Regions from separate parts of the Homo sapiens genome. Here all the other regions are reported to be linked to region 2. Evidence: microRNA targets listed by miRTarBase, many of them from high-throughput screens and not tested one by one. Region 2 holds a microRNA gene; each other region holds the end of a gene's coding sequence.
The links. The annotated mature microRNA hsa-miR-1255a reads AGGAUGAGCAAAGAAAGUAGAUU and lies in region 2 at 1,260-1,282, shown strand. An mRNA with a match to its seed (bases 2 to 7 or 8) in the 3' UTR can be bound and repressed. Matches are read on the target gene's strand: a 7mer-m8 pairs with bases 2 to 8, a 7mer-A1 pairs with bases 2 to 7 and ends in A, and an 8mer does both.

Region 1 (4,157 bases), not on the chromosome of region 2:
GGCCCCTGGCTCTTGTTTTCTGTTCCTCCACATCTGACTTCTCTTCATTGTCTCTTGTCCCAAAGATGGTCTTACTTCTGGGAATTCCTGACATTCCTAAACTCCCCAGGCCCAGGTTCTCCCTCCTGGTTCAGAGGAGGGGGGCTTGTGCCTTGTTGCTTCTCCCCTCCCCCAAGTTTGCTGGTAGAGGGAGTTGGGCCACTCCTATACCCTGAGTCACAGCACAGGCTAGGCAGGGCTGCTCAGAGCTGGAGCTGTTCCTGTAGAAGCTGAGAGCCAAGGCAGGCTGCTTAATCCGATTACCTGAGGCCTGGGGCTTGGGCTGGGCCGTTGGGCAGAGTGGGGAGCAGGGTTCCCTCACAGCAGCCTCTGGAGCCCGGGGTCCGGCCTTCTTGGTGGTGTTCTGTTCTGGCTCCAGGCTTTTTCTCCGGCATGCGCATCACAGACCTCTTAACTTGGGGAGTTGTCCTGGGTTTCCTGGCTCCCCCCTCATGACTTGGACGACTGAAGCTAAAACTTGCCATAATTCAATAGCAGTGGAGAAATATAGGTTTAGGGACTGGAGTTGGGAGGGCTTAAGTTTTCTCACTTGGGAAAGGGGTTGAATCACGGCCCAAGCACCTGCTGGAATGACTCAGGAAACAAAAATGGTCTCCCTCCTCGGCCTTTCTTGCCCCAGGGGCAGTTCTGGGATTTGAGGAGCAACAGGCACCAGGAAAGGGGTTGGGGTGGTGGTCCGGGATGCTCCCAAGCTCCTCTCAGCACAACTCGGGCCCTGAGGGCACTTCATCCCCCTGTGTTTGATCCCATTGTGGAAAGAATTGGCTTTAAATTGCCTGTGCTTCAGGGAGGGGAGGCAATCAGCAACGGGCTGGAAGGCCTGACATCAGGTCTTGGGTGGGGGGGGCGGGGGGCGTGGCACCCTGAGGGTGTTGGGGGCTGGGACAAACAGGACACCTGGGTTTACCTACGGGCTGAGGATGTTGGCGCCCTTAAGGAGGTGCAGTCTTATGGGAGGGACAGGGGCGGAGTCAGTCTTTAAAAGCTGTTCCCAGGTCTGGCCCGCCTGCCACAAACGCTGAGCCCAGGTGGGAGAGGTCTGGCCTATCCGCGCCTGGCAGCTGTCGGAACTCCGGAGACCACAAAGGGGTTTATGGTTTACCCCCTCCACGGAAGGTCGGTCTGATCGCAGCTGCGGGTCGGGGAGAGGGACCGGGGGTCCCCCAGTCAGTAGGCCTCAGAACACCTCTTCAGTGCCGGGGCACCAGACAGCGGATTTTGCATTCGACTCTCCCCAAAGTGTGCCGAACAGGTTGGAAGCAAAGGCTCCGGTTTAAGCTCTGGGCTTGGGGATAAAATACACTTTTTAAGGACCCAAGTTCCTCGGCAACGACTCCAGACTGGGAAGACCTTTCCATTTTCAGGATCGACGCTTCACGTTGAGGGGAGGGCATTCAGGACGCCCTCTTAAGGCTTCTCCCAACCCATGGCGCTACCAGGCTCCTCACAGGACCAGGCCTGGAGCCTGGAGCCTCCGGCTGCCACGGCTGCTGCCTCCTCATCTTCGGGACCCCAGGAGCGGGAGGGCGCTGGGAGCCCCGCGGCCCCCGGGACGCTGCCCCTGGAGAAGGTGAAGCGGCCGATGAACGCGTTCATGGTGTGGAGCTCCGCTCAGCGCCGCCAGATGGCGCAGCAGAACCCCAAGATGCACAACTCCGAGATCTCCAAGCGCCTGGGCGCGCAGTGGAAGCTGCTGGACGAGGACGAGAAGCGGCCCTTCGTGGAGGAGGCCAAGCGGCTCCGCGCCCGACACCTGCGCGACTACCCCGACTACAAGTACCGGCCTCGGCGCAAGGCCAAGAGCTCGGGCGCCGGACCTTCCCGCTGCGGACAGGGAAGAGGCAACCTGGCCAGCGGCGGCCCGCTCTGGGGGCCGGGGTACGCGACCACCCAACCGAGCAGAGGCTTTGGGTACAGACCCCCCAGCTACTCGACAGCCTACCTGCCTGGCAGCTATGGGTGAGTGCCTGGGAAGCGGGCCGAAGACGGAGGCCCATGCGCCCCTCTTCTGGAGCCTTGGTGGGGGCGGATGCCGGAGGACGGGAGCCCACCCAAGCAGAGGCCACTCGCGGCCAAGGTGTGGCGGGCGCAGGCCCAGTACCTCCGGGGCCTGTGTAGGGTGGGGCGGATCAGGGTTCTCCCAGAGGGCGTTTCCATCTCAGTCTGAAGGTGGTGGGCCCTGTAGGGTCAGGTGACTGACCCCTGGATGCGACTGTGTCCTAGTTAGATGCCCCGTTTCCCCCCTGCTTCTGGCCTGTGTGTGACCCAGCTTCCTCTCCCAGCCCCCAGGGCAAGGAGAGGCCGAGCTCATTCTGCCCTTTCCTGGCCTGACTCCCCAAGAGGAAAACAGCCGTGCAGCACGCAAGCCCGCTCCCGAGCGTGCCCCAACAGGGCCGCGGGCTCTCCATCCCGGGGTCGGCTTCCATGCCTGCTGCGCCCAGCGGGCTGGGTAGCCAGGGCTGGGTGGGTGGCACGCTCTACCCTGTCTGCCCAGAACTGGCCAGACTCACCTCCAACCCAGGGAAGTGCCCTCTAACCTCTTGTTTCTCTCTGCAGCTCTTCCCACTGCAAACTGGAAGCCCCCTCACCGTGCTCCCTCCCTCAGAGTGACCCTAGGCTCCAGGGGGAACTGCTGCCCACCTATACCCACTACCTGCCCCCTGGCTCTCCCACTCCATACAACCCTCCCCTTGCTGGTGCCCCCATGCCCCTAACCCACCTCTAACCCTCATGGACGCAGACCTCACGGGACGGGCCTCATCCTCCTTTTTTAATCCAGCAGCATCCCCTACCCCAGGCTGTCAACCCTTTCTCCTGTTGGACTACAGTTCAGAGGCAGCCTGCAGTCCTCCCATGATAGCCAGGGAGAGCCGCACAACATACAATTATATTTTTGGTAGTATTAAACAGTTTTGTATTATTCAACTGAGTCTCCAGTCTTTATTGTCCCATCTGTTCCCCTCACTGCAGCAGGAACCAGCCCCATCTCCACTCCCTTCCGCCTAGACCTGCCAGAGCAGGAACCTCCTCACCCCACCCTGGGGCCCTGCCTGAGTCATTCTCCGTCCCCCTTCCCCCACCCCAGCACTGGGGTCCGGGAGACAGTCCCAGCCGGGCTGAGGGAGGGAGGCAGCCACAGCCTCCCAGTCCCTCCACTCTGCCGTCCAGACTCAGTCTTCCAGGGCCAGAAGGGAAGCAGGGAGGCTGGAGGACAGGGTAAAACATTTGCCCAGGATAGTGTTACACAGCTGGAAATTGCTGCTAGAGGAGGAGGCTTGGCTGAATGACTGAATTAATAGTACATGTACAGGGCTTACGAAAGCACTCAAATGTCAAAATTTTGGCTTGGGAGACTCTACCCCCATCCTCTCCTTTTCTAAGGATCTGGATCCATCAACCATTTGTTTCCACTAAAAGAAAACCCTGGCTCAGAAAGTCTGCAAGTGCAGAGGAATGGAGGATGAGTAAGTCACACCAGCAGGCTGGCTCAGATGGGGAGAACCCTGAGGTTGGGTGAATGAGTGGAAACGGAATGACTCCAGTAGCTGGCTCTACTGCGCCTTTTTCTGCTTGTGGGGAGGCTTTGCATTCCAGTAGAAGAGCAGCTGGGCGGCGATGAGGCCGTTGCAGAGAGAGGAGACCACAAAGGTCCCAGCCATCAGGGGATCTCCGGTTTCCTGGTTGCAAGAGACAGAGCCAGGGTTACCCTTCAGCATAGCTCAAGAAAGGTTCCCTTATGGACAAAGGTTCCTCACGGGGCAGCTTTGGCCCTTAGCTGGGAGAAGTAAGACGAGGTTTTAGTGCCTTCTAGAAGGAAGATGTTGCACTCACCTGAATGGAAGTGAAGATTCGGGCCAGGGAGCCCCCAAACAGCAGGAAGACTGTGATGGCTGAGAGCTGGCCTGTGTGCCCGTTGTGGTAGTTGGTGGCTGCCTGGAGAAGCTAGGGGAGGAGTTGAGACCTTTGGCTCTGTCACCTGAGCTCTTCCCATGCTCCCCCAAGTACAACACCCCCACACTTTGATCTTCTACTCTTCCCCCCCACCCTGCCCCCACAACATCTTGTCCCTTGCTCCTGGTACCCACCCTCCCCACCAC
Region 2 (4,231 bases):
CATTTGCTTTACCTCTGCATGGAACACTTTTAATCTGTCTCTCCTGTGTGAAACTTCTCTGAAACCCTTACCAGCTGTCTGTGCTGCTACTTGTCTGTTGTACGCACGATGGATCACAAATGTTGGCAACATTTTTTCTTCATTAACTGAGAAATCTCTGAGGGGCAGGGTCTTATCCAGTTGATCTCTCCAGTGCTTAGTGCAATGCCTGGCACATTATTCTTCATTTGTTTTTTTACAACAAAAAAATTGACTGGGGAAGATATTTCTGTTTATTATACAAGAATAATGAAGCAAAGTACTTCCTGTCCTCCCTTCTATTCTAAAAATTTTAATGACATTAATATCCATGCCTTGCATGTATATTACCTCATTTTAAGTACCTTATGCAAAGTTTCCTAGTGAGTAAGTGGTAGATCAGGTATTTGGACTCCAAGTCGTGACTCAGATCCTGGGCTTTTACCACCATAACACTAACTTCAGGGCAAGATGAGGCCAAATATATTAGATGGTGTCAGTGAATTGATAGAAAATACTTGTTATTAGGGATTTCTTTTTATATAAAATATCATTGCTCCTGGAAATCATTTTGGCTGAACATCTGTGGCATTTTCTGTGGGAGAAAAATCTAATACTTTTCGTGGGGCAGATATTTTTGTCTTCTTTGTAGAAATATGTAGTTGAGGCCCACAACAATGGGACTGGACCATAAATTATGCTTTTCTTGGCATTATTGACCTTATTATGGTGTTATAACACAAACGATCCAAAACATAAAAAGAAGTACCAACTATGAGATCCATAAAAAAGTCATTTTAATTGGACCTTAAGTTTTTCCCCTAGGTTAAGGCTATGAAAAAAAAGTGTAGTGCTAGTTATTGTACACTGTTAGCCTTTTTTTGTAGACGTTGCCTTTTTATACAGGCATATTTTAGAGATATTGTGGCTTTATACAGGCATATTTTGGAGATATTGTCGGTTTGGAGATATTCCAGACTGCCACAATAGAGCGAATATCACAGGAAAGCTAGTCACACAAATTTTTTGGTTTCACAATGCATGTTAAAGTTATGTTTACACTATACTGTAGTCTGTTAAGTGTGCAATAGCATTATGTTTAAAAAAGCAATGTACATACTTCACTTAAAAAATACATAACCGTTGTGCTAATGATCATCTGAACTGTCAGTGTCTTGGGGTGGCTGTTGCTTTATCAGCTAAATGTATGTAGTATTGGAAATCCTTTGAGTTGCTTCTCAAGGATGAGCAAAGAAAGTAGATTTTTTAGATTCTAAAGAAACTATCTTCTTTGCTCATCCTTGAGAAGCAACTCCTTATCCATTAAAATTTTATCATGGGATTGCACCAAGTCAGTCCTATCTTCAGGATTCACTTTTAATTCTAGTTCTCTTGATATTTCTACCACATATGCAGTTACTCCCTCCTCTGAAGGCTTAAATTCCTTAAAGTCAGTTTATTTCAAACTCTTGTTAATGTGGATATTTTGACCTCTTTCATTAATCATGAATGTGCTTAATGGCATCTAGAATGGTGAATCCTTTCCAGAAGGTTTTCAATGTACTTTGTCCACATCTGTTAGAGGAATCACTATGTATGGCAGTGACAGTCTTATGAGATATATTTCTTAAATAGTACAATTTGAAAGTTTAAATTACTCCTTGATCCATGGACTGCAGAATGGGTGCTGTGTACAAGATCAGAGCTCTTGGATGACTAGGTGCATTGCAAAGAGCAGTAATATTTTGAAAGGATTTTTTTTTTTTCCCTGAGCAGTAAATCTCAATCTCAGCCAAGAGCTTAAAATATTCAGCAAACAATAACAATGCTGTAAACAGATGTGCTGTTATCCAGGCTTTGTTGTTCCACTTACGGAGCACAGGCAGAGTAGATTTAGCATAATTCTTAAGGGCTTTAGGATTTTCAGAATGGTAAATGAGCATGGGCCTCAACTTAAGTTACCAGCTGCATTAACCCCTAAAAAGAGAGTCAGCCTGTCCTTTGAAATTTGAAGCCAAGAGTTCACTTCCCCTCTCTAGCTGTGAAAGTCCTAGGCAGCATCTTCTTCCAATAGAAGGCTGTTTCATCCCTATTGAAAATTTGTTATTGAGTGTAGCCGCCTTCATTAATGATCTTAAGCAAGGTCTCCTGGATAACTTGCTGTAGCTTCTACATTAAAATTTGCTGCTTCACTTTGCATTTTTATGTTGTGGAGATGGCTTTTTGCCTTAAATGTCATGAACCAACTTCTGCTAATTTCCAACTTTTTCTCTGCAGCTTCCTCACCTCTCTCAGCCTTCATGGAATTGAAGAGAGTTAGGGTCTTGGCTGCTGATTAGGTGTTGGCTTAAGAGAATTTTGTGATTGGTTTGATCTATCCAGACCACAAAAACTTTTCTTATATTGGCATTAGGCTCTTTAGCTTTCTTATCATTTGTGTGTTCACTAGGTAGCACCTTTAATTTCTTTGAAGAACTTTTCCTTTGCATTCACAACTTGGATGTTTGGCGCAAGAGGCCTAGCTTTGGGCCTGTCTCCACTTTTGATATGCCTTGCATGATAAACTTAATCATTTCTACCTTTTGATTTAAAGTGAAACATGTGCAACTTTTCACTTGAACAGTTAGAGACCATTTTAGGGTTATTAATAAGCCTCATTTTCAATATTATTTTGTCTCAGGGAGTAGGGAGGCCCAAGGAGAGACAGAGAGAGATGGGTAAATGACTGGTCAGCACAGCAGTCAGAGTACACACATTTATTTGTTAAATTTGTTGTCTTATATCGGTGTGACATGAGGTGCTTTAAAACAATTACAATAGTAACATACAAAACCATGGATCACAGATTACCATAACATACAATAATAATGAAAAAGTTTGAAATATTGTGAGAATTACCAAAATGTCACAAGAGACACAAAGTGAGCACATGCTGATGGAAAAATGGCACCGCTAGACTTGCTTGTGACAGAATTGCTATAAATCTTCAATTTGTAAAAAATGTAATACCTGCAAAGTGCAGTGAGGCAAAACACAATAAGTGAGGTATGCCTGTATTCATTTTCATATTTTTGTTGCTGAAGCAAATAAAGGAAGCCACACATAGCTAAAGTGAAAGCCACTTCAAGGAGACGTCACATGAAACATTTTGAGGAGGGAGTTATGTGGTTTCATTGTAACATTTTAGATGCAAATGTGAATTGTTTTGAGATCAGAATTTTTCATTTACTACTTTTAACTATTCTTGTACTATGATGAATGTTTAGGGTTAGCCTAGTTATACAATTCTTAAATTGTTTGAAAGAAAAGATGGTGATTGAGAATTTTAGTGCTTCTCCTGAGGCAGGTGATTGGAGACAGTTGTTTGTTCTTGTGATTCATAAACGCATTTTGAATCCAACTGAACCTTGTTTGATTCACTTTGAGAAATTCTGTGGTTGAGGTAGTTGCAGGTCATAGGTTTAGGTGTAAGAGAAGATTTAACACCCTGCCCTGATTTCCTGGGTCTGTAAATTCGGGGAGCTCCAATTTCACACGGAGGCCTCTTACCATCTCTTGCTTCATGGTGAATACCTCTGCATGTGGGAAAATTTCTTCCTGCTGGAATCAGCTTAGGTTCATATTTTCTTTTTCTTCTTTTTTTCCCTGGTGATATTTTTGTGGACCCTGAACTTCAAATATATTTTTTTTGGTTGTTGTTTATGAAAGGTGTCCAGTACCATGTAGATGAAAAATTTGAGTAACGTTCATACAACTAGAGTGTTTTGTTGACAGTTCTCATTTTGTTAATATATATTTATTGAAATGTAAGGGTTTTCATGGCCTGAAAAAACAAAATATGCATTACAACTTTCCTGCTGTGTGTGTTTATTTCAGTTCTGAAGCTAGCCTGAAATAACCTCTACTTTATAAGGAAATTGATGCTGAGTTGTCATTATGCCCAACATTTATAATACATATACAGCTAATTTGAATGTTATAAGTATAGAAAAAATATCAGGTAAGTCTGTATTCAAATAGGAATATCAAAGTAAAATAACCAGTGATTAAACATTCCAGTGGTAGTACATGGGAACCAAGTGAGAAAATATGTAAGAAACATGCTTGGATTTTTTGTTTGTCTTTTTTTTTTTTCTCCCACAAATGTGGATTTAATTTGTGTCTTATGAGTGAAATTTTAAAGTAGAAGATTATGAGAGCTCTTCTTTTGGGA
Region 3 (4,231 bases), not on the chromosome of region 2:
CAGGGCCCAAGAATCTTTATTTTAAGCACTCCCCTGACCCCCAGTGATTCTGATGAAACCAGTCCATGGACTAACATTTGGAAACCATTAAAACTGAACTAGAGAATAGGGTGTAGACTATTCAGTAGTTCGAAGTCATTAATAAAGGAGGATTTGATACCACTTTATCAAGCACGTCACAGAATCCTACAGCAGTCGTTCTCAACCTCGGCCCCACTTTGGAATCTCCCAGGGGGCTTTTGAAAAATGCTGATGCCTGAGCCTCACCCTCAGAGATTCTGGTTGGAGTGGTCTGGGGTGTGGACTGGGCATCAGGATTAGCTGCCACCAGGGAAAGATGGACACTGAGAGTGAAGTCCCAGGAGAGGGTACGCAGGGTAGCACGCTTTGCTCTCCTTCCTTTTTCTCTAGAGACTTCTGGGAAGGAGCCCACCTGGAACTTCTGGAAGTACCTAGTAGCCCCAGATGGAAAGGTGGTAGGGGCTTGGGACCCAACTGTGTCAGTGGAGGAGGTCAGACCCCAGATCACAGCGCTCGTGAGGAAGCTCATCCTACTGAAGCGAGAAGACTTATAACCACCGCGTCTCCTCCTCCACCACCTCATCCCGCCCACCTGTGTGGGGCTGACCAATGCAAACTCAAATGGTGCTTCAAAGGGAGAGACCCACTGACTCTCCTTCCTTTACTCTTATGCCATTGGTCCCATCATTCTTGTGGGGGAAAAATTCTAGTATTTTGATTATTTGAATCTTACAGCAACAAATAGGAACTCCTGGCCAATGAGAGCTCTTGACCAGTGAATCACCAGCCGATACGAACGTCTTGCCAACAAAAATGTGTGGCAAATAGAAGTATATCAAGCAATAATCTCCCACCCAAGGCTTCTGTAAACTGGGACCAATGATTACCTCATAGGGCTGTTGTGAGGATTAGGATGAAATACCTGTGAAAGTGCCTAGGCAGTGCCAGCCAAATAGGAGGCATTCAATGAACATTTTTTGCATATAAACCAAAAAATAACTTGTTATCAATAAAAACTTGCATCCAACATGAATTTCCAGCCGATGATAATCCAGGCCAAAGGTTTAGTTGTTGTTATTTCCTCTGTATTATTTTCTTCATTACAAAAGAAATGCAAGTTCATTGTAACAATCCAAACAATACCTCACGATATAAAATAAAAATGAAAGTATCCTCCTCATTTTCCATAGTCTCCCTCCCTAGAGGTAAACAGTGTTAGCAGTTTGGTACAAAGGCTGCCAGGCCTTTGGTTAAGCCAATCATTATTGCCCAATAAGAACTCAGTGACCGGGCACGGTAGCTCACGCCTGTCATCCCAGCACTTTGGGAGGCCAACGTAGGTGGATCACCTGAGGTCAAGAGTTTGAGACCAGCCTGGCCAACATGGTGAAAACCCATCTCTACTAAAAATACAAAAATTAGGCTGGGCGCGGTGGCTCACGCTTGTAATCCCAGCACTTTGGGAGGCCAAGGCGGGCGGATCACGAGGTCAGGAGATCGAGACCAACCTCGCTAATACGGTGAAACCCCGTCTCTACTAAAAATACAAAAAATTAGCCGGGCGTGGTGGCGGGCGCTTGTAGTCCCAGCTACTCTGGAGGCTGAGGCAGGAGAATGGTGTGAACCCGGGAGGCGGAGCTTGCAGTGAGCAGAGATCGTGCCACTGCACTCCAGCCTGTGCACTCTAGCCTGGGCGACAGAGCAAGACTCCGTCTCAATAATAATAATAATAATAAAAATAAAAAAATAAAAATACAAAAATTAGCCTGGCATGACCGGGCACAGTGGCTCATGCCTGTAATCCCAGCACTTTGGGAGGCTGAGGCGGGTGGATCACCTGAGGTCAGGAGTTTGAGACCAGCCTGGCCAACATGGTGAAACCCCGTCTCTACAAAAATATAAAAATTAGTCGGGCATGATGGCAGGTGCCTGTAATCCCAGCTACTCTGGAGGCTGAGGCAGGAGAATCGCTTGAATCCGGGAGGCAGAGGTTGCTGTGAGCGGAGATAACGCCACTGCATTCTAGCCTGGGCAGCAGAGAGAGACTCTGTCTCAAAAAAAAAAAAAATTCACTGAGTAATCCACTAGCCAAAAGTACACCTCAATAACAAATAGGCAAAGGAGATGAATAGATAGTTCACGGAAGACTATAGATGCGTAATAAGGATACAAAAAGATGTCCAGCCTCATTGAAGTTGGAAAGTTTTTTGTTTGTTTGTTTTGTTTTTGTGATGGAGTCTAGCTCTGTCACCCAGGCTGGAGTGCAGTGGCACAGTCTCGGCTCACTGCAAGCTCTGCCTCCCAAGTTCACGCCATTCTGCCTCAGCCTCCCGAGTAGCTGGGACTACAGGCGCCCACCACCACGCTCAGCTAATTTTTTTTTTTTTGTATTTTTAGTAGAGGCGGGGTTTCATCATGTTAGCCAGGATGGTCTCAATCTCCTGACCCAGTGATCCGCCCGCCTCGGCCTCCCAAAGTGCTGGGATTACAGGCGTGAGCCACTATTCCCGGCCGAAAGATATTTTTTTAATGATAATACCCCTGGTTGGCAGGGATGTGAGGAAATGGGCATTCACATAAACTGTGGTACGATAAACTGGCACAAGTGTTTGGAGGGTGATTTGGCAATATCTTTTAAAACAAAATGCTCATACCTTTTGTTTTTGCTTTTTGTTTTGAGACAGGGTCACACTCTGTTGCCCAGGCTGAAGAAGAGTGGCTCGATCGTAGCTTACTGCATCCTTAGCCTCCTGAGTAACTAGGACTGCAGGCACACGCCACCATGCAACATAGTGGGACCCCACCTCTACAAAAAAATATTAGCTGGCCATGGCAGTGCATGCCTGTAGTCCCAGCTATCAGGAGGCTGAGGTGAGAGAATTGCTAGAGCCTGGGAGGTCAAGGCTGCAGCGAACCGTAACCATGCCACTGCACTCAGCCTGGGTGACAGAGGAGACCTTGCCTCAAATTATAAACTAATATGGTTATTAAAATGAATGAATGAAGTCTCCATATGCTACCATAGAAAGTTGTCCAAAAGTGAAAAAATGATAAGTTGTAAAACAGAATGAACACATTCACATACCCAGAAAAACCAGTATGAACAAGTGTAATGTTTTTATTAAAAATGTACAATGTTGCTGGGTGCATTAGGTGGCTCACGCCTGTAATCCCAGCACTTTGGGAGGCAGAGGTGGGAGGATTGCTTGAGCCCAGGAGTTCAAGACCAGTCTGGGCAACATGGCAAGACCGTGTCTCTGCAAAAAAATTTAAAAATTAGCCAGGCGTGGTCACTCACACCTGTAGTCCCAGCTACTCAGGAGGCTGAGGCAGGAGGATTGTTTGAGCCCAGGAGGTTGAGGCTGCAGTGAGCCGTGTTTGCGCCACTGTACTCCAGCCTGGGCAATGGGAGTGGACCCTGTCCCAAATTTTTAAAAAATTTACAATGTTAAGTGGGAGGGAAAGAGAGAGGGAAAAATATAGACCAAACTCTTAATGGTGGTTGTCTGCGAGGGGCTGAGGTAGGATAACAGGAGTCATTTTCATTAAGTTTCTGTAATGTTTGAATTTTGTATGTCAAATCCATATTTCACCTTTATATAAATGTGGAAAGGTGGCTAAAAATTGGGGTGCAGCCTGGGAAACACAGTGAGACTTCATCTCTACAAAAAATCAAAAAATTAGCCAGGTGTGATGGTGCACACCTATAGTCCCAGCTACTCAGGAGGCTGAGTGAGGAGAGTCACTGGAGCCTGGGAGTTTGAGGCTGCAGTGAGCTATGATCACGCCACTGCACTCCAACCTGAGCAACAGACCAAAATACTATAAAAAAAATGGGGTGATGGGCAGAGTCACTGGTAGATAATTCATTGGCCAATAAGAATTTCAGGTGTACTTTATCTAAGGTCACTCTTCTAGAAGTCTGGAGACTCAGATTCAAGTTCCTGTTGTGCCCCTGACTCACAGCAAATTCTTCCCTCTCTCCTGTCCTCCGTTTTCTCACTGGACAATGAAAGGGTTAAACCGTGCTTAGGATTTTCACAGTCTCCCTTCATGGTGCTTCTCAAAAGCTAACAAAAGTAAAGTGAAGGCTGTCCATGGGGTGACCACAGCCCCTCCTATGGTGGCCTCTCAGCTGCCCTTACACACCCTCCTCTTAGCTGCAGCTCTGCATGTACTTGTGTGCATGCACACACACACAGTGAAGCCC

Region 1: miRTarBase lists MPDU1 as a target of hsa-miR-1255a. Seed matches in the 3' UTR shown: 7mer-m8 at 3,519-3,525.
Region 3: the mRNA of GPX7 is a reported target of hsa-miR-1255a. Seed matches in the 3' UTR shown: 7mer-m8 at 600-606.

Annotation. Positions count from the first base shown.
Region 1 is chr17:7,587,006-7,591,162 of GRCh38, reverse strand. MPDU1 (mannose-P-dolichol utilization defect 1) reads right to left here. Exons shown (of 7, transcript NM_004870.4): 5 at 4,146-4,157; 6 at 3,892-4,002; 7 at 2,951-3,737. The coding sequence ends at 3,612. It overlaps SOX15 (SRY-box transcription factor 15), which reads left to right and starts at 1,069. Exons shown (of 2, transcript NM_006942.2): 1 at 1,069-2,019; 2 at 2,617-2,985. The coding sequence starts at 1,487. The coding sequence ends at 2,785. RefSeq lists an enhancer at 1,351-1,925.
Region 2 is chr4:101,327,416-101,331,646 of GRCh38, reverse strand. It overlaps MIR1255A (microRNA 1255a), which reads left to right and starts at 1,233; the gene lies at 1,233-1,345. The region is part of intron 1 of PPP3CA (protein phosphatase 3 catalytic subunit alpha); the gene reads left to right.
Region 3 is chr1:52,607,851-52,612,081 of GRCh38, forward strand. GPX7 (glutathione peroxidase 7) reads left to right here. Exons shown (of 3, transcript NM_015696.5): 3 at 412-1,201. The coding sequence ends at 575. Among named protein-coding and RNA genes, the nearest start is that of GPX7, 7.6 kb to the left of the region's middle.